4 linked regions of the Homo sapiens genome follow. The protein of the gene in region 4 interacts with the protein of the main gene of each other region in a biochemical or structural test. Each region holds a gene or a part of one and is shown on either strand. Other genes may lie near its edges.

Evidence for each region.
Region 1: the proteins of ABCA1 (region 4) and ERBIN interact in a test that uses a peptide from one of them, tested with the Homo sapiens proteins (2 studies listed by BioGRID and IntAct).
Region 2: of the proteins of ABCA1 (region 4) and CSNK2A2, one has a biochemical effect on the other in vitro, tested with the Homo sapiens proteins (one study listed by BioGRID).
Region 3: of the proteins of ABCA1 (region 4) and LNX1, one has a biochemical effect on the other in vitro, tested with the Homo sapiens proteins (2 studies listed by BioGRID and IntAct, with this or other methods).

The regions. Positions count from the first base shown.
Region 1 is NC_000005.10:66,020,562-66,027,587, reverse strand, and holds part of ERBIN (erbin), read right to left. Parts: intron 6,267-7,026; coding exon 6,203-6,266; intron 4,299-6,202; coding exon 4,224-4,298; intron 3,283-4,223; coding exon 3,138-3,282; intron 2,109-3,137; coding exon 2,036-2,108; intron 1,741-2,035; coding exon 1,611-1,740; intron 1,287-1,610; coding exon 1,171-1,286; intron 1-1,170. UniProt on the Homo sapiens protein: Acts as an adapter for the receptor ERBB2, in epithelia. By binding the unphosphorylated 'Tyr-1248' of receptor ERBB2, it may contribute to stabilize this unphosphorylated state.
Region 2 is NC_000016.10:58,167,096-58,174,121, forward strand, and holds part of CSNK2A2 (casein kinase II subunit alpha'), read right to left. Parts: intron 4,192-7,026; exon of another isoform or gene 3,375-4,191; coding exon of another isoform or gene 3,270-3,374; intron 1,599-3,269; coding exon 1,515-1,598; intron 701-1,514; coding exon 590-700; intron 214-589; coding exon 112-213; intron 1-111.
Region 3 is NC_000004.12:53,588,469-53,595,878, reverse strand, and holds the start of LNX1 (E3 ubiquitin-protein ligase LNX), read left to right. Parts: upstream 1-4,392; 5' UTR 4,393-4,491; intron 4,492-7,410.
Region 4 is NC_000009.12:104,785,145-104,792,170, forward strand, and holds part of ABCA1 (phospholipid-transporting ATPase ABCA1), read right to left. Parts: intron 6,855-7,026; coding exon 6,792-6,854; intron 5,885-6,791; coding exon 5,778-5,884; intron 5,756-5,777; exon of another isoform or gene 3,424-5,755; coding exon 3,282-3,423; exon of another isoform or gene 2,911-3,281; coding exon 2,776-2,910; exon of another isoform or gene 2,473-2,775; intron 1,833-2,472; coding exon 1,729-1,832; intron 1,247-1,728; coding exon 1,154-1,246; intron 496-1,153; coding exon 252-495; intron 1-251. UniProt on the Homo sapiens protein: Catalyzes the translocation of specific phospholipids from the cytoplasmic to the extracellular/lumenal leaflet of membrane coupled to the hydrolysis of ATP.

The sequences.
Region 1 (7,026 bases), on a different chromosome or scaffold from region 4:
CTGTATTGTTTAGGGAATAACAATGGGAAAGTTGGTACACGTTCAGTACTGACACAATTTTTTTCCAAATATTTCTGATCTGAAGTTGTTTGAATCCACACTTGCAGAACCCACAAATACAAGGGTCAACTATAAATACTCATTAGAATACTAAATGAAAATATCTTATTTAAGAGAGAATTATCTACTTCAGCCTTGCTATCTTATACCTAACTAGTCTTCCGTGCCTTTCTTTCAGCAACCCACTGTGGGCCGTAGGAATTAAAGGCTGAAACGTGACTTAAGAAAGCAGTGGTTCTTTTAAATAAAACAGAAGTTAGAATATCATAATTAGTCAGAAAATTGAGTTTAAATTAAAGCTCTACCTTACAAGCTACGTGAGTCACCTTAAATCTGAGTCTTAAAACCCTCCTACATAAAATGGGAATACTATTATACTATTTCATAGAGCTGTTTTGAAGACTTCACAAGACACTATGAAAGCAAAAAGTGAAAACACTCTACAAATGCTGTTTAATCATCATTAGTATGTTTACCTCACGAAAAAGTATGGACATTCTGTTTTTAACTTAAACATTGTTCCAATTTACAACCCTAGTGATCAATTTACTCTGCACCTTGGCTTTGTTGAAACCAGATCTCTGCCTAGGAAAATATTAGCAACAGACTAGATACATTCCAAAATTGTTTTGTTAAATAGCAATATTCAGGTGAAGATGTGACTTCAGAAATAAAAGGTAACTGTAAGAAGAGAATAAAGACTATATAGCTAAGTCAACCCAAAATGAACAGTAACAACCACCGTATGATAAATTAACATCAGATAAAATAAGACCACTCTTTGTATTTAAAGAAAAAAATATATACAGTTAAGTCCTCATTTAAGTTATTGATAGGTTCTTGGAAACCAAAACTTTTAGCAAAACTGTGTATGGCAGGTTCTCAAATAATGTCATTTTCTTATAACACTGATGAACGAAAGAAGTGATTTCATTGTATGTTGTTTCACTGAAAGTCACACTTTCCAAGAGCCTATCAATAACACTGAGAACTTACTATGTATATTTAAAGAGCAACAAGCACTAGCTATTCTATTATATATCATATGAAACTTAATTTCATCTAACCAATGTCTCCTATAAACCAACTGATGAATATAGTATTACGAACCTATTATCACTTAAATTAATGACTTTTAATTTTTGCATATCACCCATTTCCTCTGGAAGTGTCTCAAGTTTATTGGAATGGAGAAACAGCACAGTTATATTTTTCCAGCTTCCAATCTGAAAGAGAAATATAAACTGAGTATCAAAAAATTTGGCCTACAGGTTGATCAACATATAAAAAACATCATTTTTGAAAGTTATGAAAAATACTTCACATTTATAGAAGAAATAATGACTAGACTTTCTTTTTAATTAATTTTTATGTACATAAGAAAGCATTTAAGAACCTCTTCTAAATTAACATAGCTAATTATTCAGAAAATAAATAACTTGAAAACTATTTTAGAAAGAAAATAAATGAAGCCACACTAAATAGCTATAATGAAGATAATCAGAAAAAAATGAAAAGACAAAAATCTAAACAAATCTAAAATACATTACCTCTGGGGGCAACTGCTGTAAGTAATTATGATCAGCAGCAAAAGTTCTTAAGTTAGTAAGCTGCCCAATAGATGAAGGCAAAGCTTCAACTTCATTGAAACTACAATCCAGTTCTTCTACTGATATTAACCTTTAATTTAAAAAAAGAAATATATATTATTTGTTAAAGATTTCCTATATATAATCCAAAATTTCAGAACATATAAACATTTGAACTTGACTTTGAAAACCTAGTGAAACCATTTCACAAAGCTAAACTTCACCAATAAGTAGGTTTGTCTATCATAAACACACTCAACCTGTATACTAATTACTTAAATGTTTACAAAATCTTTAGGTCATTTATGCAAATACCTGAAAATATGTATGGCATGCTGAACTGAAAGTAAAATCTTCGAGGGTGTATACATTCACAAAAAACTTACCCTCCTATAGAGTCTGGCAGATACATTAACTGGTTTTCATCTATTTTAAGCGTTGTTATATTCTTCAACGAACCTAATGAGGGAAGAAACAACATACAATTTTTCAGCTTAAAATAGAAGCAAGTCCACCAACAGTCAGTGTGAGACATACTACATCTGACAAGAATTAGAAACAACTTTCCTAACAAACGTATCTAAAAGAGATACCACTCCCAATCCCAATGTTCTATTCCCTCATCCTGTCCTTTCAATCTTCATCCACATCACTATTTAACATAGTGTACATTTGTTTATTAACTCCCACTAAAATATACTGATAGTAGGAACTTTTTTGTCTTCGTTGTTCACTGTTGTAGCTCTGCTTCTAAAAACAATGTCATGGCACAGAAAAGACAGACAATACAAACTTGTTAAATTAATAGACTAAAGAAATGGTAGTATGAAGGTAGTTCATAACAGGTATATAAAAAACTATTCCATATATACTAAATACTAAAACAGTAAAATATTTTTTAAGTTTAAAAAGTGTTGACTAAGAGTAGAATCGTAACAAACTTACAAAAATGTAGTTTTAGCTAAAACCACTACGTGATTTAACTGAGAAATATTTTTGGTTTTTAAATTAAAACATCAAAAAGATGTCAAGATTGAAGTTTTGGGTCCTTTCATCAAAATAATTCAATTCCATTGACATATCATTGAACAAGCAACTACACAGACTCAATCATAGATCTCTCATGATCTGTTCAACTGATCTGTTTTCTTGTCTGAGTGTCTGTAATGAAACAGGACTGAAAAAAGTTACCAAAATAAAAGCTATGACAATAAAAGCTAACAGTTAAGCCAAATTTGCATAAGTTAACTTATTTTAAAGAATTTAAATATATTAGAAATAAAAATGAGATTACCTTAGAGTAAATAAAAAACAGTAATGTCAACAAAGGAGCAAACTGTACAACTGATCACACCAGGAAAAATTCAAATAAAATCCGTTCCTGTGGTAACGAAGTATAACTACCTCATAACAAGTGAAATTTGAGATTATGTGGAAGTCTCGAATTTATTTTAATAAAAATTACATGAATTTGAAAGCAATACAAACCAATAGTCTCAGGAAGCTGCTGAAGTGAATTGCTTGATAATAGGAGGTCTTGAAGGTTTTCACATGTTGAAATTCCTTCTTCAACCATTTCAATATTATTTTTAGAAACATCCAAATATGTGAGCTGTTTCAAACTACCAATAAACTATAAGTAAAAAAAGAAAATCTAATGACTCTATTAACATTAGTAATTTGTAAAAAGTTTAGGGAATAAACTTGATACCAAGTTTTAATTCAAAATTAAATGCTAATACAAGAAAGAAGACTCCCAGGTAGTTTTTTAAATGCCATTAGAAATGTATTCAGTAATATAGCTAAGATGTTCTACTAATTGTAGCATAGCAGAAGTGACAAAGGACATATTCTTTGGGAATTCAGGTATCCATTACCTCCTAAGGAAATAGCATATATGGGGATTCTTGTGGTTTTTTTTATGGGAGTAAACAATTTGTCAGTTGTTAAAACAGAAAGTTCGGCTGGGCGCGGTGGCTCACGCCTGTAATCCCAGCACTTTGGTAGGCCGAGGCAGGCGGATAATGAGGTCAGGAGATCGAGACCATCCTGGCTAACACGGTGAAATCCCGTCTCCACTAAAAAATAAAAAAAAATTAGCTGGGCATGGTGGTGGTCACCTGTAGTCCCAGCTACTCAGGAGGCTGAGGCAGGAGAATGGTGTGAACCCAGGAGGCGGAGCTCGCAGTGAGCCGAGATCGCACCACTGCACTCCAGCCTGGGCAACAGAGCGAGACTCTGTCTCAAAAAAAAAAAAAAAAAAAATTCAGAAAGTTCATGAAAAATATCCTAGTTTACCAATTCCTTGGGCAAAGCAAATTGGGACGTAAGTTCAAGTGATACCATTGGAAAGGACACACTCAACAGTATTAAAAGGAGACATACAAATGTTTATTATGAGAATTCTTAGATTATAATCAAGAATGTGCTCATGAAAAAAAGTAATTTGCTTCTGTTTAATAAAGAATAATTCAATTTTTTTATTAATTAAAAGTAATTATAAAAGGTACAATTCACAAAACTGCAAAGGAGAGCCAGAAATAAGTGATGCCATTTAAAATCTCATATACATACCCCTGGAATAAAAGTCAGTCTATTAGCATCCATCCAAAACTCTTTCAATCCACTTAGTTGCTCAAGTACTTCAGGCTGTTGGGATTAGGGTAGGGGATAGCAGTAATTCAATTAATTTTTATGAATGTCTTTATCTGGCAAAAGAAGCCCTGGGAATTTCTAATAACCTTTAGTTTCAAATCATTAAATAAAAGGAGCAGGGAGAAGGAAAAATAAAAAAGAAGAGCCAGGATGTAAGCCTTTCTACTGCATTATAGTTACTACAGTAAAATTATTATAGAAAATTATTAATGGAGAAATCAAAGAGACATGCCATAGCAGTAGATTACAAAAAACACATTTAAGCTTTGGATTACACAACAGGGGCAAGTTTTTATATAATTTGTAAAGAAATAAAAAATAGGACTCACTGCTTAGAAGTATACAATAAAAATATGCACTCATGCATTATCAGTAAGAAGATACAGCTTTTAGAAAACAGAAAAATTACAAATGTTCCCTGGTGACATTCATTAAGAAGGAGATAAAAGACAACGTGCATCCTAAATGTCCATAATCAGGGAAAGGTAAATAGACAAAGTCATAACTACATGATACAAATATACTGTAATTTAAACCTCTAGTAAAAACTTCTAATTACATGGTAGAAAATTCTTTATAATATGGTGTTGAGGACATCAAAATTAATCCAAGTGTTGTGGCAGACCTTCATATCCAGGCAAAATTTGCTCCTGGGCATTGTCCCTTCAAGTCTGCCCTCTTCAAAGTTATTTCTATCACCTCACAAAGCCATCTGCAATCAATGATCATGTGATGGCACAGAGTACTATCACATCTAATGACCATAGTTAACAGTCATATATAAAAGGCATGCCAATCAGATTTACTGTTAACATATAAATATAGATAAGAATCCCAGATGTAACTTGGATTAAAAGAAATTTCCTTTTGTGCATTACTGTTAAATTCTACTGTAAGTTTTAAAAAGTGTATAATGTTGGAAGACCAAAATGGTACAAAAACTAATGACGATTTTGAAAGCTTGTTGGATTCTTAAAATGAACGAGATTTTTGAAATAGTTAATACGGAAACGGATTCATACAGAACAAATATTGAGAAAGGACGTAACAGATAAATAATTTGGGAAGCACAGCATGTATTTTAGAGAATGAGGTACTCCAAAGTACCATGTTCCTCCTCAAACCTCAGCTGAAATTTATAATATTAATATAATACCCACAGGGCAATACTATAGCAAGCAGTTTTGAGAAATTCCTAGGCTTAAAACCATCATTTGAGAGCTACCACACTTTTAAACAACAAACTTGTAAACTAATTTAAAAGTTTAATAATGATACTCAGCTGGATGAGTTCCTCTTCAAAAAAAAAAAAATCTAGCTTATTTTCTGAGTTCTTTTGGAAAACTCACTAAAGACAAAAGCTACTTAAACACTACTCCTTTCCTTTTAGAGTCAGCTTCATAGCGCACTTGGCATACAAAGCACAAACAAAAAGGTTCTCATTACCACTTCAAAAATAACAGTTGTTTCACTCAATGATTTTCCCCTTAGCTATTAAGTAACATTATAGAGAAGTATCTTATTACTGAATAAGTTAACAAGCAATACCCCATGGAGCTCTCTCTGATTCAGAACTACTTTTACCTGCTGCATTCCAGACTGATGTTTCCCACTTATAATCACTCAAATTTTCTGCTTCCTATGCTAAAAATTGTTTAGTATCTCTTCCATGGACCTCTCATTGATTTTACATTTTATGCTCACTTGTGGTCAGAAGTTCATCTGTCTGGTTAATTTTTCTATCTGTCTGGAAAGTTCTGGCTAAGAAATTTCATATCTTGTAACTAAGAAAAAAAAGTAAACCTTTATCCAATTTGTAAGAGAAATACATTAATTTTCATATTTTGTTCTTCATTAAATATAAGAACTTAGGGAAAGTGAGACTGATGAGAACTTACCACTTCCGTGAATTCGTTACTTCCCAAATCCAGTCTTTCCAGCTGGGTCAGTCTATTCATAGTTCTGTTCATAATGGAGTAATGAAAAATTAACTAGAAAAATATCAATTACATGGAAGCTTTCAAAACAGTCTAAAACATTCTTATGGAATAGGTAATTATTTATGGGCTTTCACATGTTGACAAAATAAAAATATTAATTTTCTAAAAAATTTTAAAAGTCAGATTTCTAGATAAAATAATTATCAGTTATTATCTTATTTTGCCTTCTCATTGGTCTTTTCATTTCTATTTTTAAGAAGCAATTGCAATAAATTTAAACCCACAAGCCAGAATACAAATAATGAGTTTCTATTTTTTCACATAATGAATTTTCATATAGTACAAGTCAGCTAATAAATGTTGGCAGATGTATAATAATTACTACCATAATTACAAAAATTCTTTTTCAAAACTGCTCATATATTTGTAAGACTTTAAGATAACTGTAACTCCGAAAATTAATATTCAAAATGCTAACAGTACGTTGTATTACTCCCCACATGTTCAAATTAAATACAATACAATTCAAAATAAAGTTTTATATGAATCACAAATTAGTAGTTGACATTTATTTTAAATAAAAGCAATAATATACTATTCTTAACTTCCAACTTAACATCAACACTTCTCTGAAATTACAGGAACTTGAAAGATGTACAAACCAGTTTGTAATGAAATAAACTATGTTGCACTTCTATCTTTTCTCTCTCCTTTTACAAAGGTACCCTTTGAAACTAATTCAAACAAATATTTACACTCTTAAGTGGCTATTTTTGTACAAC
Region 2 (7,026 bases), on a different chromosome or scaffold from region 4:
ATGCAGACACTGAGTGATACTTAGTGGCTCAAGGATAGTATTCTTATCTAAGGATGCTATTTTTTTGGCATTCACCCCCAAATAAATAAGAACCAGAAAGCATTTGCTCACCTGGTCATAGTTGTCCTGTCCATGGAAGAATGGTTCCCTTCGAAAGATCATGCTTGCTAACATACAGCCCAAACTCCACATGTCCAAGCTATAATCATACATCTGAGGCAATAAGGACAACGCATTAGCCAAGGGTATTAGAAATCCATTTTTCTGATATAAATTTCTTTTTTAGACGAGATTGGGCGTGTTCAGGGTGGTATGGCCATAGATAATTTATTTAAAAAAAATTTTTTTTAACTTCCTGGCTCCTAGAAATGATCTGAATTTCTAGTCTTCATTTAACCTTTGCAGATATTTTAGATTTAAAAACTTCTCTGTCCCCCCAAAAAACTAGCTGAGAAAAAACTAAAATCAGCATTTTAGGGTGAAATAATGGCTGGGTTTTGAGTGTATTCAAACTGACTAGATCAACAGCAAACCAGAAAAGCCCTAAGCAAGTATAAATAACCCAGAATAGCTCTGCTAACAAGTTTACCTGATAGTCCACGAGGAGCTCTGGTCCCTTGAAGTACCTTGAGGCTACACGAACATTGTACTCCTGAGCAGGATGATAGAATTCTGCCAGACCCCAATCTATCAGTCGCAGCTACAAATAGGACAGAAAAAAACATGTGAAAGGAGTGTTTCTAGACGCCTATGCCTTAGAACAAGGCCACATCACATTAGGTAACAATCATTTGGCCACACAAAAAATGTGAGCAGGTGCACTGGCTTAAAAATTACATTTTCAGCAATCGTGCAAGAGGTCATTTTTAGAGCAGAACACTTGAAATGCTTTTTGAAAAAATTTTAAATTATCCTGGTTCATCCCTCTCTCTAGATCAACAGAGCTCAACCTTTTTTTCTGCCCACATTCAGAAACTGTAGGCAGTTACACTTGGTAACACATTCTCCCATCATTCATAGCTTTTCGTTATAAGCTCCAGGCGTCAGTGAAAGGGCTGGGGACACACATCCCACTCCAGGACTGAAGCATTGCTCTAATGATTTATTCGTCTAATACTAGATGATCCATTTACTCACTGATTAGGGCCAACAGAGTTGGATATCAAAAATAGGAGGGACCCAAGTGTTCTTTTAAGGCCAGGCAGATTGGTCTGCGGGTCATCAAGAAATGAAGCAGAAACCACCAGCTGTAATTTCTTTCTGAGGCCCTCCAGAAAACTATGACCAAAATAAACAAGTGACTATAGTTAGTTACTATAGTTAAACCGTCTACTTTCCTTGTGTACTACACTATACAAAGTAGAAATCAACAATGGAGATGGGAGAAATCACAGTAACGAAAGTTTGCCAAAAAACCCACCACGGGTCTACAGAAACCATCATGGCACTGGACAGCTTTTTGGTCTGCTCTAAGCCTTTTAATCAAGCTTGTTGCTGCCTGGCTGTAATGGTACCTTTTTCTGTTGGTGATCTATCATGACATTGTGAGGTTTCACATCCCTGTGCATGATTCCCTTGCTGTGGCAGTAATCCAGAGCCTATTAGGTAAGAAAGCACAGATAATAGTAAGCAACCCCTCTACCATCCCCCAACGCAAGCATAGTCTTATTGTTTGTGACACCTTGACTTGAATACAGTCCCCCAACGGGCAGCTTGCTGCCTGTAATGAAAGAGAAAAAAAGCGTGCTTCAGAAGGCACCCCTTGCTCTCTCTGCACACTACAGCTGGTAGAAAGGGGGTATGAAGGGAATGGCAAGGGCTATGAGGAAGATTTCTTTTTTTTTTTTTTGAGATGGAGTCTTGCTCTGTCGCCCAGGCTGGAGTGCAGTGGTGCAATCTCGGCTCACTGCAAGCTCTGCCTCCCGGGTTCACGCCCTTCTCCTGCCTCAGCCTCCCGAGTAGCTAGGACTACAAGTGCCTGCCACTACGCCCAGCTAATTTTCTGTATTTTTAGTAGAGACAGGGTTTCACCGTGTTAGCCAGGATGGTTTCAATCTCCTGACCTCGTGATCCGCCAGCCTCGGCCTCCCAAGGTACTGGGATTACAGGTGTGAGCCACTGTGCCCAGCCGAGGAAGATTTCTTTAAAAGAGGGGGTGATGAGGCCAGGCACAGTGACTCATGCCTGTAATCCTAGCACTTTGGGAGGCCGAGGCAGGTGGATCACTTGAGGTCAGGAGTTCGAGACTAGCCTGGGCAACACGGCTATACTAAAAATACAAAAGTTAGCTGGGCGTGGTGGTGCGTGCCTGTAATCCCAGCCACTCGACTGGGCTGAGGCTGGAGAACTGCTTGAACCTGGGAGGTGGAGGCTGCAGTGAGCTGAGATGGTGCCACTGCACTCCAGCCTGGGCAAGAAAGGCGGGCAGTGGGGAGGGGGGTGTGTGTGTGGGATGATAAACCAGACTTTGGAACCTCACTGGAGTCACCTCTCATAATGGTTCAAAGGACAGACCAGCATCTATGTGGACATGAAGAATGACATTCAAATACATCTTTCAGTATGGCTTATTTTGTACATAAGGGTCCCACGTGGGTTTTCTAGATGACCAAGTATTAGTATTTTCCTTAATATAATCCCTGAGCCAGCTAGCCTTTAAGACTTATCATTATAAGGCCAGGCATGGTGCTCATGCCTGTAATCCCAGAACTTTCGGAGGCAGGCAGATCACTTCAGGTCAGGAGTTCAAGACCAGCCTGGCCAACATGGCGAAACTCCACCTCTACTAAAAATACAAAAAATTAGCCAGGCAAGGTGGTGGGCACCTCTAGTCCCAGCTACTTGTGGGGCTAAGGCACGAGAATTGCCTGAACCTGAGAGGCGGAGGTTGCAGTGAGCCGAGATGGCACCATTGCACTTCAGCCTGGGCAACAAAGCGGGTCTCAAAAAAAAAACAATTATCATTACATATTATTCCAAGGGAGAAAATTGCTTTGTTTAAGATGATTGATATGCAGATAAGATTTTATGTATATAATGGTTTTTCACAAATTTAAAAAGCTGTGCAACCATTACCACAATCCAGTTTTAGAACATCTCCATCACTCCTAAAATTTTTCTTGAGCTTGTCTGTAGTCAATCCCCTTTCCTAACTTCTCCCAACCCCTCCGTGCCCTGCCCACAACCACTGACCTGCTATTTGCTGGTATAGATTTGCCTTTTCTGTACATTCATAATATGAAATCATACATGTATAGTGCTTTGTCTACCTTCTTTCCTTCAGTATACTGTTTCTGAGATTCATCCAAGTTGTTTTTCCTTGCTGAGTAGTATTCCACTACTAGCTGATGGACATTTGGGTTGTTTCCACTCATGCTTTCATTTCCCTTGGGTAGATTCCTAGGGGTGGAAGTGCTGGGTTGTATGCTAAATTTGTGTTTAAACTTTTAAGAAACTGCCTAATTATCTTCCAAAGTGGCTGCGTCACTTTTACTCCCACCAGCAACCTGAGGGTTCAAGTTTCTCCACATTCTCATCAACACCTGTCATTGTTCAACTTTTTGATTATAGCTTTGCTGGTGGGTGTAAAGTGGTATCTCCATGTGGTTTTGATTTTTATTTCCATAATGAGTGATGAAGTGGAACTTCTTTTTATGTGTCTACCGGCCATTCTAAATCTTCTTTGGAGAAATGCTGATTCAAATCTTTCAATCATTTATTAGATTGTTAAGCTCCATTTTTTTAATGTAAAAATTTGCTTCTAAATCTCCCTTGCCTAACATAATAACTATCTTCATAAACTTCAAATTCAGGACCTTTGGCTAATCTTAACAAGCACCTGAATCCTACACAAGGTCAATGAAATACTCTTCAAGTAGAATCCCTGTCCTCTACCTACCACTAGAGCCCCCCTCCAGTTTTAACAACCAAAAATGGTTCCAGATTTTGCCCAATGTCCCCTGGGGGACAAGCTTGACCTGGATAAGAAGCAATAAACTAGACTCTTGAGGACACTTGAATGGACTTCTTCATGCTGGAGGAGTACACAAGGCAGAGAATGAGCCCTAGGATTAGCATTCCAGGAATAAGCTCCCTCGATCTGTGCTTTTCCCTGAACCAAGAGTATACAATATAGAATGCTTGTTATGGCCAGGCGTGGTGGCTCACGCCTGTAATCCCAGCAGTTTGGGGGCCAAGGCGGGCAGATCACGAGGTCAGGAGTTTTGAGACCAGCCTGACCAACAGGGTGAAACCCCGTTTCTACTAAAAATACAAAAATTAGCCAGGTGTGGTGGTGCGTGCCTGTAATCCCAACTACTCAGGAGGCCGAGGCGGGAGAACTGCTTGAACCCGGGAGGTGGAGGTTGCAGTGAGCCGAGATCATGCCACCGCACTCCAGCCTGGGCGACAGATAAAAAAAGAAAGAATGCTTGTTATTTGAAGATCAAGAACAGGCACTACTAACTATGGGGATACATATAAAGATATAATCTTCAGAGGAGACACTGAACAGAAGAACACAAGAGAGCCCTGCAGGATGTTCACAATATCCTCTACCAGCCCTGTCCAATAGGACCTTCTGCAATGATGGAAATATTCTATTCCTGCACTCTATAATACGGTAGCCACTAGCCACATGAGGCCACTGAGCACCTGAAATGTGCCTAGTGTGATTAGGGAACTAAATTTTATTTTATTATTTTATTTTTTTGTACAGGGCCTTGCTCTGTTGCCCAGGCTAGAGTGCAGTGGCATGATCTCAGCTCACTGCAACCTCTGCCTCACAGGCTCAAGTGGATCCTCCCACCTCCACCTCCTGAGTAGCTGGAACCATAGGCATGTACCACTACACCTGGAGCATGCATATATATATATATATATATATTTTTTTTTTTTTTTTTTTTTTGGTAGCTATGGGGCTTTGCCATGTTGCCCAGGCTGGTCTTGAACTCCTGAGCTCAAGCAATCAACCTGCCTTGGCCTCCCGAAGCATTGGGATTTATAGGCGTGAGCCACCGAGTCTGGCCAGCAACTAAATTTTGAATTTTACTTAATTTAAATAGCTACCTATGGGCAGTGGTTACTAACTATACTGGATATCATCGTCCTGTGTAAATCTGGGTGAGAGTTTTACATACACAAACATCCAAAAGACTGTACGTTTAAGATTTATTTACTTCACTTACATTCTACTTCAATTTTTTCCCTCTGTTTTATAATAACTGTAGCAAGATTCCAAAGTGCCTTTGTGGCAGTGCTTTATGAAACCAGGGGTTGTGAGGGCAGACCTCCTTGAATCTGAATCAGGAGATCAGGTTAAGTCACCGAGTCATCACACTGCAGCCCTCAGCCTCAGTTGCTTCTACATTTTCAAAGGAGTTAAATATTTAGTCTTCCCCACTCCTGTTTTTTCTTTTCAAAGAGAAAATTTACCAAGTGTTGATTCTGCTATATTGCCTACTCTTTGTCCAAAGGAATAAACTAATTAAGACCACAATACCTGGCATGTGAAAAATACTCAATGAAAGCAAAGGCTGAACAAATACAGTAAGGTAATTAATTCTTTTGCCAAGTTTCCTAGTCGGACTCCCTATGGAGTTACTGACATGCTTTGAAATTCTTTGGGGAATTATTTCAGTTTTAAAATCTCGTACAGTTTCTGACCATTAAGCATGAATGACGTTTTTCAAGTTTCATCTGGGATTCTACGTCTCATTAGCAAAAATAAGTATATGTCCTCACTGCCTAGCTGCTACCTCCAGAAAGCAGAAAGGACATCAGACATTGAGTGACACCCACATGTCCACCTGGGAAGACCTGCATTAGTTGGATGTCTTTATGGGACCTAAGGGCAGGCTAGCTTATACAACTTTAGCTTTGGCTGATGGTTAAATAACACAAAATCTCAAACCATCTTACTTAAAAATAACCAACTGTGAGATCTGAATTGTAGCTCTCATGGGGTGAGAGTGCATGGGATTACTCAGGAAGCACTTCCAGGAAAGGAGCTAGCCTGACAGTTCACAGGATCATGGCACTGCAAATTTTATCCACACCAATGCTTCAATTTTAGTCTAGAGAAGACATGGAGAAACGTGGGATAAATCAAGCTCGACCTTTTTCGTGTTTCTGATCTTACTGACAAAAAGGAAGACCCATTAGCCATAAGAGTGAACCTTAAATCCACCACCTCAGCTTTCTCTAATAAAAAGTGGTGCGTACAAGTTCTTATAAAAACACATTCATTTCATAGAACTGTTCTTAAGATCTACAACTACCCTAAAACTTTTCACAAGACTGCATATTAATACATGCATTTTTGGAGGCAGTTCATAGTTTTCATTAGGTTCTTAGTGATCCAGGACACAAAAATCTAGGACCCATGGGTGTATTCCATTTTACAAACTGAGCATTCCTTTAAGTGCTTATCTAGACAAACAAAATGATCATTCCTCCACCAACCAGTAATTCTTCAAATTTCATTGTGCTTGGGATTAGTAAGTCTCTTAGACATTCTACCCATCACTTTTCCCTGCATTAACGAGCCACGGCTACAGGGGTAGGTTAGGAAGACTCATGCAAGAAGGGGATGACGACACATGGCAAGGAAAGATGGCTGCAAATGCCTGCCACCCCTGTAGGCATGTCTCTCTATAATATGCCTACATATTCAATGCTTTTCCCATCAAGAGTGGAGTCGGTTTTTCCATGCTTTGAAGCTAGGCTTGGCCATGTGATTTGCTTTGGCCAATAGGGTTATTAGCAAATATGACACAGGTAGAGGGTTGAAAAGTGCCTATACATTGAGGTTTCCCTCTCTCTGCTGCTAGGAACCCCAGGAGGACCACCATGGGAAGCAGCATGAACTTCACAGGCTGGAGGATGAGACCTCAGCTATCCCTGCTGCCCCAGCTGTGGTCCTAGATTGTGAATGAGGTCATCCTGGACCATCCTGCCCCAGTCAAATCAACTGAGACCTAAAGAATCACCTGGCTAACTCAATTATAAGAAACAATAATCATTTTT
Region 3 (7,410 bases), on a different chromosome or scaffold from region 4:
AAAAAAAAATAGGAAGCAAAATGGGCAAAGTAATTCTGCTGAATCACAAGGCATGGTCTTCGCTGTAGGTTCATTGCCAGGAGGAGTCCTTGAGAACGCCAAGCTTCATGGGGGGATCTACAAGAAAAGAGCTTTGAAGACAGACCTCCTTCCCCCCTTAGATTTCCCTGTCAAGATATATAAAGGAATTCAAACTAATCAAAAAGCCCAAGTGAGCCGGCTGGTTAACTAGGACAGGCCCAACTTTGAGTTCAGAAAGCTTTCTAATGTTTTCCACCTGCCTATCCAAAGAACAAAGTTTCCAGGATATGTTGACTGCAAAAGAGGCTTGCTCCTAAAGAGAAAGATCATGTGGTTGCCGAAATGGCATATCCTGGAAGTTTAGCTCAATGCTGAAAACCATTGTCATGCATAAGAAATTACCCCATGCCCAAGATACTGAGTTTCTTTTTCTTAAGCTGTTTAATCATCATGAGAAAAGTAGTCAACAGGCATGTGAGGACATGAAGCAGTTAGCCCTTGAGGTTCCCGAGGCTCTTTACAGTCTCAGCCCATCTAAATTTAGCAATCAGTGGATCCTCTTCACCCTAGCAAGGTGGGTATTTCATTGTCTCGTATTCCTCTTCTCCCCCACCACACACATGTTCCTCCCCAACAGATATCTGCTATGATCATTCCTGTTCCACCCATGCCACTGCCCTGTCTGGAATGATCTGTGCCCTCTCACCACCTCTCCAAATCGTTCAAGGCCCAATTCATGTTCCTTTCTTCATGAAATATTCCCCAATGGCACCAGCCAACACCAATATTTTTGCTTCCTGATCAGCCCTCTTCTCTGTCTCACTTACTGTCCAACTAGAGATAGAAAAGGGGACCAAGTGGCTCGCACCTGTAATCCCAGCACTTTGGGAGGCCGAGGTGGGAGGATCACTTGAGGTCAGGAGTTTGAGAACAGCCTGGGCACCATAGTGAGACCTCATCTCTAGAAAAAATTTAAAAACTAGCAGGGCATGGTGGCACGTGCCTGTGGTCCCAGCTACTTGGGAGGCTGAGGTGGGAGGATCACTTGAGCCCAGGAGGTTGGGGCTGCAGTGAGCCATGATGGCACCACTGCACTATAGCTTGGATGACAAAGGGAGAGTTGTCTCTAAAAAAAAAAATTAAAAAAGAAAGAAAGAAAAGAAAGTAAGAAAGTAAAAGAAAAGGGTTTGATCTTGGGGGGTAAAACCAACTGCTAGTGTGCCTGGAGTAATATCTTCAAGATTCCAAAGTTCCTTCTGAGTTGAAAAGTGTCATGGTCTTTAGCAATGACAGTGAGAATGGTATGGGAGGGGGGAATGGAGCACTATATGTCCAGGATTTGCCAAGCCTAGTCTAAACCATTCTTCCTGGTAGTGGTTTATAATGAAACTTAATTTTTCATTGTCTCATATTTTCCAAATGTATGCAGTTCCATGTTCTTATGGCCACTCGGATTAAATTTTCAGATTTTAAAGTGATAGGCCGCAGAAGTTACAGAGAAAAATGACCATAAAAGATGTCATAGAGAGTTACAACTGGTCATTCTTGAGGGGTCCCTCAAGCTGGCCTTCCATCTTGGGGTTGATTTGATAAGCTCTCAAAAGATGATTTCAAGTGTGCACCCAGGGGCGATGGATTTCCTGGTATGATTTCTCATAAATATATGCATGAATTTATGAATATATACATATTTATATATACATATATATATATATATTATACACACACTTTCAGCATATAGACCAGATTACTAATTAATTTCCAAATGGAGACATCCTTTATCAGAAACTACCCTCCCCAGGGCTACTTCTACAGGTTTCTACTTCTCCTTCTGAATAATGGGTAAGAAGCTGAATGTGTCCAGGAAGTGTCCCAGTGAGCATGAAATCAGAACCTTCCCTCTTTTCTTTCCAGTGGTTAAAAAGTGGGCCTTGATTAAAAACTGCTCTGCCGCTTGCCGATGAGCTTGTCCTTAGGCAGTTTCTCAGATTCACTATGTCTTGGTTTTCCCAGCTGTAGAATGCAAATAGCAATGATACCTGACACAGGGTTCTTGTATAAAGTGCTCAGAACAATAAGTAGCACCTGTTAAACACAATGTTCATTTTTATGATTACATTTTTTTCTAGTAGTTTAGAAATATAATTTCCATGATAATGTAACAGCCCTAATGGCCCAAAAAAAAAGCCCATATTATTTTTTTTAACCCCTGCATATTATTCGAAATCCAGGAGTACCAAGAAAGATCTCACCTGAGAAGGCTAATTGTGTAGTTTTTTCTCTTCCTTTATACACTATACCTGGGAGTTAGCTCCACTCCTGGATTAACTCTTATTTCTCTATTTTCTTTCTGTTTTACAACAATTCATCACACCACATATGTAGATGACTGTGTGTATGTGAACATGGCAAGTGAAACCTCACGATCTCCAGGCTGTTCGGTGAAGCTTTATGCGAATTCATTTCACCTACACCCTTCCCCTGCCCACCCAAGGCCTTGAACCGAAGCCTGTGATCCCCTCCCAAGTTGGATCCTGCCCTTCGCCAAAGGCAAGACCGCTGAAGGCGTGGCCTTCTAGATGATTCATCAGGTTGGCGGGCTCTCCCTCCCCTCCCCCTTGCCCAGGGGACACCCTGTCCGCGTGAAGAGGGGGGCCTTTGTGTGAGTGATGTTTCTCAATTATCAAACTAGTGGCGTGAAACCTTTTCCTGAAACACCTGAGTGTAAAAGGTTTTGTTACCTCCCTTTTTTTCTTTTAAATAATAAAGGAATAGCCACACCTACCTTAGTTTCTATTGGATAAAAAGGTGAATAGTTTTGTTGTGGTGGTTGTTGTTGTTTTAAGCCTTCAACTCTCAAAAGGCACAGAGTTCCCAGGTGCAAAGAGGTAGCTTAGACCTGTCTGGGGCGGATCGGGGACAGGAGCCAGCTCCCCTGAGGTCGAGCACCAGAGCCGGCCCCCAGACCCCGCCCTCGACTACAATTTCTCTTCCTTCTCCTCCCCCTTGCTTTGCGAGCTATTGACTGACTGCAGCCAGCTGAGGCCCAGGCTGTGGGAATCCGGACTTCCTTTTCTTCCCTCTCCCATTTTTCCTTCTTCCTCCACCCTCCCCCAAACCAAACCCCAAAACCTCTAGGTAGTCCAATATTAAAACCGGTGGAACAAAAGCATTCCCAAAATCAGGAGGAGGGAAAGAAGAAGACGAGGGAGGCAAAAGTAGGAGGAAAATAGGAATGTCAACATTTATTTTCCTGAAGGGGAAAAAAAATTCTCTCTGGGCAGGCAGGCCATCTTCCGGGACGGGGAATCCACAGTTTCCTCAGGTAATGAGTTCCAGGGATGCTGGATGCAGGTGGTAAAAATACGCAGCGTTTCAATGGGATGATGGGAGATGTTTACAGCCCTCCTGGGAAGATGCCAGAGAGTTTAACAGTCCTGGGATACCTCCCAGCTGCCTGCTCTGGTGCTGGATGAGTTTACGCCTCCTTTCCTGCTGGAAAAGGTGAAGCAACCAGTGACTTGTCCAGGGTCACACACCACGCTTGGGACAGAAATAACTCTGACGTCTCTTTCCTGGCTATATCAGCAGACAACATCGCCTAATGACAGTACTACCATTCCAATCTGAATCATTTAAATTGCTCCTAATTGCAGGCCTGCAGTGCACTGTAACTGCCGTATGACTCTAACTGCCAAGCCAGCCGAGATAGGAATGACTGAAGTTTTGCAAATTCCTGAATATGGAATTAAAAATGCTGGGCGGGGGAGGGGGTAGCGCAAAAGTGTTTGAAAACCACTTTGAAACTGCTGACAGGTATCCTATTTCAAATTGTTTAAAAGATGAATTGGAAATGTCAACTTAAATTTGTCATTTTATTGGAATTAGAGAAACACTTGGTGTTCAAATGGATGCGGTTCGAAAAGGCACCTCAGATATTTCTAAGAAGTTCGGCTTCACACTCTTCCTTTTTGTGTCTGCTAAATTACTGTCTCATTTTGGTGTTTAAACTTCCCTTTTAACTCCTTTGTGGGCAGATATGGGGAAAGGGGAGGGCCTGGGAAACAACCAGGCATTTGACTTCAGATCTGAACACGGGGCTGGACACGTGCTGTGCTCAGGAAAGAAAGTAAATTCCACCTGGCAAATTGCTCTAACTGATTTATTTGTCCACAAAGAGACGCCACCTACCTGCTTGCAGGTATTCAGGTAAATGACAGGTGGGCGGGGCCTCCTGACTCTTTCAATCCCTAAGGTCTCAGCAATGCTTTATCTGTCGGGGCTTCCGTGATGTCACCCATTTCCTGGTCTGGAGCGACCAATGCCGTCCTCCTTCCTCCAGGCACCTGTTCACCGAAGTTGAGGCTGGTCACAACTCCGGCGGCCCAAGGAGCTGCTCGGTTCACCCACAAGGAATGAGAGCTGCCTGCCTGCTGCTGCTTGGAGAGCCCCAGACAGTCGCTTGAAGAGGTGAGTTGAAACCCTCCATTTTTCTCTCTTGGCATTTAGACCACTGGCCCCTGAGGGATCTGAACACGGAATTTGAATGAAAAAATACAAGCTGAACGGCTTGTCGCTAGTGTTTGCCCCAGAGGGAGAAGCTTTTTTGAGACAGAAGAGTAGAGAGATGACTTTGACATTCTAGTTGCACAATAAACTTCTCCCAGGCCAGATATTTAATCCTTTTTGTTTCTCTGATCATTAATCCAGCCTGTGCTTGTCCTCGTACTTGATCTGATTAAAACAACAACAACAACCTAAAGAGAAGTAGAGTGAAGGCTTTTGTTTTGAAACTTAGCGCGAAGGTGCAGATCTGTTCAGCCCGTTTAACGGGGGCTAGGAGGCCAGTGCAGACTGGATTCAGAGTTCTTATTTTTCCTTTTCTTCCTCCCTGTATTTTGATCTAAACCTGTGAAGTGTCCCTAGTTTTTTTTTCTTTCCCCCTGAAAACCTGTTCCTCAGGGCAAATTCTGTTGCCCTATTCAGAAGCTGTGCGTTCCAGTTTTCCTCTCTTCTCTGAAAAAGTCTACCATTTTCTTTGCTCTTTGTTGAACACTCTTTTAAATACGACTTTGCAGTGTGCATTTAGAATTTGTTTACATTTAGACCTGGACTGGCTGCCTGCTGACCTTTGGTTACAGTAAGAATTAATTCCCTCATTGCTGCAAGAATGTGACTTCAGGTCTGATTTTTAATTTTTTGGACCTCTTTGGCTTTTTCTGTCTCTTTTTCTTTTAATAGCAAATATACCGAGGAAGTTGTTCTGCCAGGACCTGGCTTTTAAAGTAATTTTACCTCTAGGATCCATTTTTGTTTTCTTAATCCTGATCACACAGCCTGTATCTTGACAGCCCAATAGTCAAACTCTTTAGCCAATATTGTTGTCAGAGAAAGGAAACCATTTTTAAGCCCAGCTGCCTGCTGGGATGAGCTGGAAAAACTGGAAAAAGAAATAAATCTGCGAGACACTTCATTCTAGATTCCAACATCAGCTGTTTTTCTGAGATTTAAGTTAGCAGATGTTTGCAAGGGAATAATCTGTTAGGAATTATGCTCCTGTTCATCCACCCAGAAATACAAAATGCATGTAAATTCTCCCAAGGTATGAATTGAAACAAGCTGAGATCATTTTTGCCTTAGACAGACAGTCGTTCCTCACCACTAAGAATCTGCCCAGTTCTTGTTGCTAATTTCTGTCTTACTGTTTGGAGGTCCCTATTGTTCTTCCTTAACTGACCTTTGTTTATTATTTTCCCCAAGCTTGTGAGTTTAAGGGGGGGGGTTTGGCCACCACTTGTCTCTTACTAAGGTTCTCACTTGATTCAAAGCTTGGATCTTCTGATAAAAGTGCATCTAAACCTCTCCTCAAGATTACATTGCCTCTGGTTTACCATGGTTGATTAGTGCTTTTCACAGTAGTTAATTTATGATTAAATAAATAATTTCATCACTGTATGTCAGCATGTCTGAGTACTAAAGGAACAAAGCTGTAGACACTGTACCCCCAGGTAGAAGAAAGAAAAGAAGTGACAAAGACTGGAATTCAGAGTCAGATTGACTAGAATGCAGTTGGTCTGTTGGGTAATTTACACACAAGTCCTGTCCAGAGTTCCTGTGGTAACTCCACCCATTGGTTCAAGTGGACATAGGCCTGATGGAAAAATGTGCAATCTCCTTCATTTATATCCTTGAGCAAGTTACTTCTCTGACTTTCAGTTTCTTCATCGGTAAGATGGGAGATAATAATCCCCATGATCTAATGTGGTTGTGAGAAGTAAATGAGGTAGCTAATATATGTTAGCATCCAGCGACCAATGCCTGGTGTTAACTGGTGCTAAACTGAGGCTAGGTTCTTCCTTTGGAAGGAATTTTCCTAGGTTGCTTGGAGGAGAGAGTCTGACTCTATCAAGATAAAGATCATATGTGGTTGCAGTTGTAGGAACCTTGATAGTTCTTGTTATTGTAATTAATTGTAGGTAATTAACTGCAATGTTAACAGTTTGGAAAAAGAAAACAGGCAGGAGAATTCTTAAACAATGTCATCAAACAAGGTGGGCAGATTTGTCTCCGCTAGCCTCACAGGCAAAGCTTTTAGGAGTTGCTGGCTGGCTGTGATTTCTTCCTTTTCCCACTCTAAGGCTCTCATCCTGCAACAGACCCACAAAATGTGATTCTCCATGGGCCTTTCGGGGGAAATGTCCAGTTGTCATTGCTGTAATCTGACTTGGCAGAGAGTTCTTTTTGCTGTCAGTCGTGCTATCTCCAGGGCAGACTGGGTGTTTGGTCTCCTCCAGTCTCACAGATAAACACCCTTCTCCCTAACCAGAGTGAGGGTTCATGCCGAGCCTCTGGCAGGAGGAAGCCCCTGGTTTGGAGCCTCATTGTACCATAGAAGGAGGTTCATGACCCATTGGATGTGATTGGCCTTGTCATGCAATACCCTGTGCCCTTGGGTGACCTTGAGTCATTGCATATGAGCAGTTGTGTGCCCAGGGCCCTGGTCACTTCTCTGGGTCTCGCCCTTCAGGGATACCACAAATTTTCATCATTCAAGAGTAAGGGATTAGTGGATTGAGGTCAGTGGGTTCTACTGTTCTACTAGCTTGCCTACGGAGCCCTAAGGGAGAACCTCAACCCCCCTGCATGTCAGTTTCCTTAGCTACATTTTTCCCCAAAGGACGCTAAAATGGTGTACTTCACAGGCCCCCTCCATCCTTACAACTGAAGCAAGGTGGGCTGCATGTCCAGGTGGGTAGGTCAGACTGACTGGGGGGACTGGGTAGTGCCTCACTAGAAAATATCAATCTTATTCATTCCATTCTAGGTGGGGCAATGCTACTGCTTTAGAATAGTGGTCTGGTCTCTGGCATCAGGCTGCCTACCTGGGTT
Region 4 (7,026 bases):
TAGGTGCTCACTAAATGGTAGTTTTTATGGTTATTATTACAGTAAATTCTCACAATAATCCTATAGAGTACATAGGCATCATCTCCCTTTTCAGGTTCAGAGAGGTTTAGTAAAAAGCATAGCTAGGAATAGTAGATCAGGAATTCAAGCACCAATTCAAGATACAAACTGCTCTTGGACCTATGGGCGGGAGTGTCGGGGCAGGAATCCACACCCTGAGAAGTAAATCTGTTTTGACACTCAAAGCTTACTTGGTCAAGTGTTGTCTGAGAAACAGAGTAGTCTTCTATGTGGAGTCGCTTTTTGCTCTGGGAGAGGATGCTGAATATCCTGGCCAGAGAAGATAATGAAGATGGAAGCTGGTATTGTAGCATGTTCCGGTGTTTCTCTTTTAGAACACTTCCAGGAAATGCAAGTCCAAAGAAATCCTGGACAGGCTTCAGGTCCGGGTTGGACCCTGCTATTCGTACAACTATTGTATAACCATCTCCAAACCTGAAAGCAGGAAAAAATACCCAAATGGAGGATCTCCAGAAAACTATTTAAAAGAATACTGAACCCTGGGAACCCAACTTGTGCCATGAAAAAGGGCGGCCCCTGGCAGGCCCAGAAATAAGTTTCTGAGAGAAGGAACCAGTTATCATTTACTAAATACTTATTTTATGTGAAGCACCATGCCATGTGCTGTAAATACATGATCTCCTTTAATCCTCACCTGGACCCATGAAGTCTGACAGATGTTACAGAGAAACTGAGGCCCAGGGAGTTAGTCACTTGCCCATGGCTCAGAGCTCATAATTGGTAGGGCCAGGATGCAAACCCATTTGTGTTTGACTCCAAAGCTTGCGCTCTCACCAGTACTGGCACATGTAAATTTTTTTCATTTCATCTATAGCACAAAGCTAGGAGGTAGATCTTCCAGGGAAACTAACTCTTACAGTAGTTAAGTCACTTGCCCAAGAGTCACAGAACCAGTAAATGGTAAAGACAGAATTTGAATGCAGTTCGGACTTCAAAGCCCTCATTCTTTCCACTATACTGTTTTGCTCAGTTTTATTTCCCTTTATGTTAGAGGCACCATTTATATACTCACAAAAGAATAAATATCAAGCCTTCTCACTAGGCACTATCCCAAAGAAATTATCTTTATTACCTATTTTTTAGATGCTGGACACTGCCAAGGCACCTGAACCTTCCATTGACCATGATTGCCATCCTAGTGCAAAGAGCTTCACATTCTTCCATACTGCGGTAAAACAGAAAGAGGTTTTAGTTTTAGAGAGATTCTCTGTAACCATGAGAACATCACCATGACTTCCAGCATTCCAGCTTCCTAGGGAATTGTATTCTGTTACAAGTACATGTGGATATAGGGATGATGCTGTTCAGTGTAGTGGTGTTTACAATTGTGAACAAGTTGGAAATAATCCAAATGTCTACAAAAGGGGGAATAGTTAAATAAGAGTATATCCTAATGGAATACTATCCAGCTATAAGAAATGACACCTAAATGCACTGACTTGGAATAATGTTTACAATATATTAAGTGAAAAAGAGCAGTATTTATACTGGGCTTGCATTTTTGTAAGAATATGCATATATAATTTCAGGTAATAATTGTTTTACTCTTTGCTTTTCTGTATTTTCTAATTTTTACAAAATGATCGCATATTCTACTTGGAAAGTTAAAACATCCCACAGTGAGGAACCCAAGACTTTACTACGGACCTATGAGATGTAAGCACTACTGATCTCCCCTCCTTGACAACACTTAGGGCACAATTCCACAAGAACCGCCGGGCTTTGGGATCCATGCCTGTGGTGGGTTCATCCTGTAATTAGAATAAAATAAGTCTTATTTGCTGGGGGGAAAAAAAATCAAAGATAAATTTGTTTTTAAATGCAGAAGCATCTTTGAAACAGCTTAAATTTTAACTTGCCATTCTAGTTATTTCTTGATGAATCAAAGAATTAGAGTAACTTTCAAATTCATTTGTAAACAAGGTCATTATTATAAATGTCTTATTGATGCAGGAAACTCAAATATTCTGAGTACTTTTTTATGTAATTAAATTTCTCCAAATAAATAGGGAAGGAAAAAGGCCATTTAGTTGTAATTATCTTTTCATGACTGATAAGTATATACAAAACAACTTTTTGTCTGAAACCTCTATTGAAGTCAGTATAAGATTGGGGTGAAATTCCTTTTTTTTTTTAATTCCAGCTCACTCAGATTACCCTAGTATATTGCAACTGTTAGCCTTACAGAAACAAATTCCAGACCGAGGTGGAATACATAAAAGCCTCAAAGGCTTCTTCCCGTAATAACATCAATGCTCTTATCTACAGAAGAAAAAAGGTCAAGGGCCACTTCCCAGTCTGATCTGTTTTTCATCTATCCGTGTGTAAGGAACTATGACCTAGTTGCTACCTTGGGGATTTTAAAGCTGTGTCCACACTCTTCATTTTCAGGGAATGAACACAAAGATGATTAGAAAGAATGTTCCAGAGAAAGATCAAATCACATATCCAGCCTCAATCACGCTAAGAAACAAAGTGCTTGGAGTGCCTCTATTTGGGAGCATCTGCAGGCATGGTACAGCCACCCCAGTGTGTGCCAAGGGAGAAGCTTCCCTCTGCTTTTCCAAGGTTGCTCTGCTGTCCCTGGGGGAAGACAAGCCAATCATACAACAGCCCTGGACATATAGGACTTTTGAACAGTCATGTTTTCCACTCAGGCCAGAACAACAGTTTTCCATCCACAGTTATACTCACCAGAAACACCACAGGAGGCCCGCCGATCAAAGCCATGGCTGTAGAGAGCTTGCGTTTGTTGCCTCCACTATAGTTACCAGCATATTTTTCTCCATACTTCACGAGGCCCAGTTTCCGAATCGCCCACTCACCAACCTACAGTGATAAAAAGCACCTTGACTTTGGTCTGGCTTGGGAATTTTATCATGCTGTCCTACACATACATGTATGAAAGTTCTTTCACTGAGTAGGACTAGATTCTATAATCATAACCTGACAACTGGTGAGGAGCCAAAGCAGGGAGAAGGGACTCGTGTGGTGGGAGCAGCACTCCCTCTCTGCCCACCCAGCCCTGCCCCACCACCGTTACAGGTTTCCACCCTGAAAGCAGATACAAAGAACCAGCATTTTGTGCTGCTGCATTCATGAGGAAAAACAGCCTGAAGTCAATGCGTGTGGAAAAGCCATAAGGTATATATTGTCAGGATGCCAAAGGAGACAGGCTGGCTTTCAGGTGCCCACAGTACCTTGCCAACTTCTTTCTCTGGGACTCCTCTCAAAAGGGCAAAGAACTCCACGTGTTCTCTCCCAGTCAACAGCTCTGTGATGGCATCAAACTGAGGGCAGTAGCCCATGTTCTGATGTACTTCATGGATGTTTGATAAGATACTGCAAAGGACAAGAAAACTACTTAGATTTTAAGCAGGTAGAGATACTCTGGTTAGACAATCTGGCCTAATGTTCCTGTAAAGTATGCTTCTCCATTACAAAGATACCAATACATCTGCTGCTACTTGAAAGCACAGCCTTTCTGCCCCCAGGATGCTAGCTCTTCCTGGCAGGCAGGGTTCCTGCCTCTACCCTCCCCAGTCCTTGCACCTCCCTGGCTCTCTGAACACTTCAGTCTGCAGGTGCAGTCCCATTTCAGAATTTCTGAGGTCATGCCAACCACTGCACATTCTTTACCAACAATCTCAGTCACACTACCCCAGGGCTTTAACGCTAAGGCCCCATCCTAGACTTCACTCATATGCACCATTCACATGCACCAAATGAGAAGGCCCAGAAATTTTGAGTGTGAGCAACACAGAACCTAGAGACACAATTTATGTGGTGGTGGGGTGGCTTTGGGGTTCTATGAAGCCAGTCAAGTGAAGAATCACATGTGAGAGAAGTTCAGTGTTCACGTTCCAGACTGATGACTGCACCTCAGCCACAGCGGCATTGCCATGAACTTGGCCTTCTGGCAGCATTCATTCCTCTCTGTGTATCTAATTAGCACCCCCAGGGTCAGCCTTTTTCAGAATTAGGATTGAGGCACACGTGGACACCGTGCCAGGCCCTCACAGCTATACCAACCAAATCAGTTCTTACAACCAGTCCCTGTGACAAACCTTACTATGGGCTGGTTATTACTGCCACTGCTATATGCGTCAGGAGCTTGGTACTAGGAGCAAGCCTAGGAAAGCAGTTGTGCAGCGCTAGGCCTGCTATTCCCAGAATGTCTGTTCTCTTAGGATTCCTTTACATTGCTACTGCAAAAATGTAAGAGACAGGAGAGGAGATCATGAATACATTAATTTCCTTGCTCTTTTCAATTTTATTGGCTATCCCCCTGTCCAGTGTGTTCAAATTGTGAGTCATTGTTCATTAGTGGTTTGGGAAATAAATTTAGTGGGTCATGACCAGCACTTTTTTAATGACGCAGTATAAGGTAGAATAAGAAATAGCAGAGTGCACTACAATTAGTAACAGTAGGTACTGCTTTATGAAACTTTAGGTTATACATGTGTCTACATGTCTGTGTGTACATACTAGGTTGAGATATAAAATGTATTTCCCACAACGGTCATGGTCAAAAAACTCTGAAAGCCACTGCCTTGTACTATCTCTCCACATAATAAGTCCAGAGAAGCCGGGCGCAGTGGCTCATGCCTGTAATCCCAGAACTTTGGGAGGCTGAGGCAGGTGGATCACCTGAGGTCAGGAGCTCGAGACCAGTCTGGCCAACATGGTGAAACCCCATCTCTACTGAAAATACAAAAAAATTAGGCAGGCATTGTGGCGGGCACCTGTAATCTCAGCTACTCAGGAGGCTGAGGCAGGAGAATCGCTTGAACCTGGGAGGCGGAGGTTGCAGTGAGCCAAGGTCGCGCCATTGCTCTCCAGCCTGGGCAGTAAGAGTGAAACTCCGTCTCAAAAAAAAAAAAGCCCAGAGAAGCCCCACATATTTAAAGTACTTAGAGTAACATTATCTAAGAAGCCTATAAAATGTAGCTGTATTCCCAAAGATCAGATTGCTTTGTGACCTGTGCAGTCTCAGAAAATGGCCTAACGGTGGCTCAGTCAATTTGTATGCTCTTTAGAGAGGGCAATTTACTTTGTAGGAATTGTTCCTGAGGAAATAATAAAAGATGTATACAGGGACATATTTACATAGTGAAAAATGGAAACTAATGTGTCCAACATTTATAAGGAATTTATTAAATAAATTATAGGTACATGTACATAGGGGGATTTTATGTAGCAATGTAAAATTCCACATCTTAGGAAATGTAACCCACTGGGAAATATTCATAATACACTCATTAACAATAAAAACTAATTTTAAATTCTACATACAGTATGATCTCAATTGTATGGCACATTTATATGTGTATATAAGACAGATGTGGGGTGATGGAAAAGTTCTAAAACTGGATTGTGGTGATGGTTGCAAAACTCTCAATTTACCAAAAATCACTAAATTATACTCTTAAAAAACAAGCAAATTATATTGTATGTAAATTATACCTGAATAAAGCTGTTAAAAGAAGAGAATGAGACTGAAAGGAAATGTAAATTGTGATTATCTCTAGATATTGAAATCATGGATGATTTTATGTGCTTCTTTACCCTTTACTATATTTCAACATTTTTATGAACTCTAAAAATACCACTGTAATCAAAAATAACAACCTATTTCTTTAAATAAATTAAAAACAAAGTCTTTGCAGCAAAATACAAGCCACTTCTTTTCTCACCTATTTTTGTTAAGGAAAGCATCTCCTCTGGTAACAGTGGTATCTCCTGTTAACATCTTGAAAGTTGATGATTTTCCAGCCCCATTAACTCCCAGGAGCCCAAAGCACTGAAAAGGAAAGATTAAGTTGTATAAGCAAACTCTAAAAACATGAATATAAATGCCCCTAACACGTAACTACCTCAAACCTTCAATTCTTAAATATCAGAGAAGAATCAAATATTTTCTTGGTTTTAACACATCGTATAGATATTTAAATATGTATTTCATAATGGGACCATTTTAAGTGTGGCTGTATTTATAAATATTATTTGAGTTGTCAAGTTGAGGCCAAAGTTAATGTGTGAAAAACAGTAATGAAAGCCAGCTAGCCAAATTGCACCACCTACTCTGGCAAAAGGGCATAAAAGAACACAAACGGAAACCAGAAAGGAGAAAATCTATTTTTAAAAAACTATTTGAATGTCATCACCATCCCAAATGGATCACAAAAGCATGTTTTAGATGTGCGTGCTTTTTCTGTTTTTGTTGTTGACATGAGTCTCACTCTGTCACCAGGCTGGAGTGCAGCAGCGCAATCTGGGCAACCTCCCCCTCCTAGGTTCAAGCAATTCTCCTGCCTCAGCCTCCCGAGTAGCTGGGACTACAGGAATGCACTACTATGCCCAGCTAATTTTTGTATTTATAGTAGAGATGGGGTTTCACCATGTTGGCCAGGATGGTCTCAATCTCCTGACCTCGTGATCCGCCCACCTCGGCCTCCCAAAGTGCTGGGATTACAGGAGTGAATCACTGCGCCCAGCCCCATGCTTTTTCTTAAATTGTATTGGATTCTCTGAAATCATTCTCTTGACATACAGGGTCCCTCTCTTCTCGATGACTAATTGCTCCATCCTGGCATAAATACAGAAGCCTTTAAAATCCACTTTTACCTCTTAACGAGCATCGTTGCTTGATTGGGTAGAGATAGTCTGAACTAATAGGGACAAACGCAATATAGACAAAGTGTCTTTACCTCACCAGGAGGAATGCCCACGCAAATCCTGTCAACAGCAGGCTTCCGCTTCCTTCTATATATCTGCAACAAACAAAATGTAAACATTCATAAGCCTCAGTGACTCACAGCTCTCCCAAGCAACTGTGGAAGGCAGGACTATAAACCACATACACTGCAACATAAGACTTGTCAATAACCCTAAGCCATAGGCATATTTGATGTGCCAAGAGCCTTGGTCTGCGTTTGTGGCGAC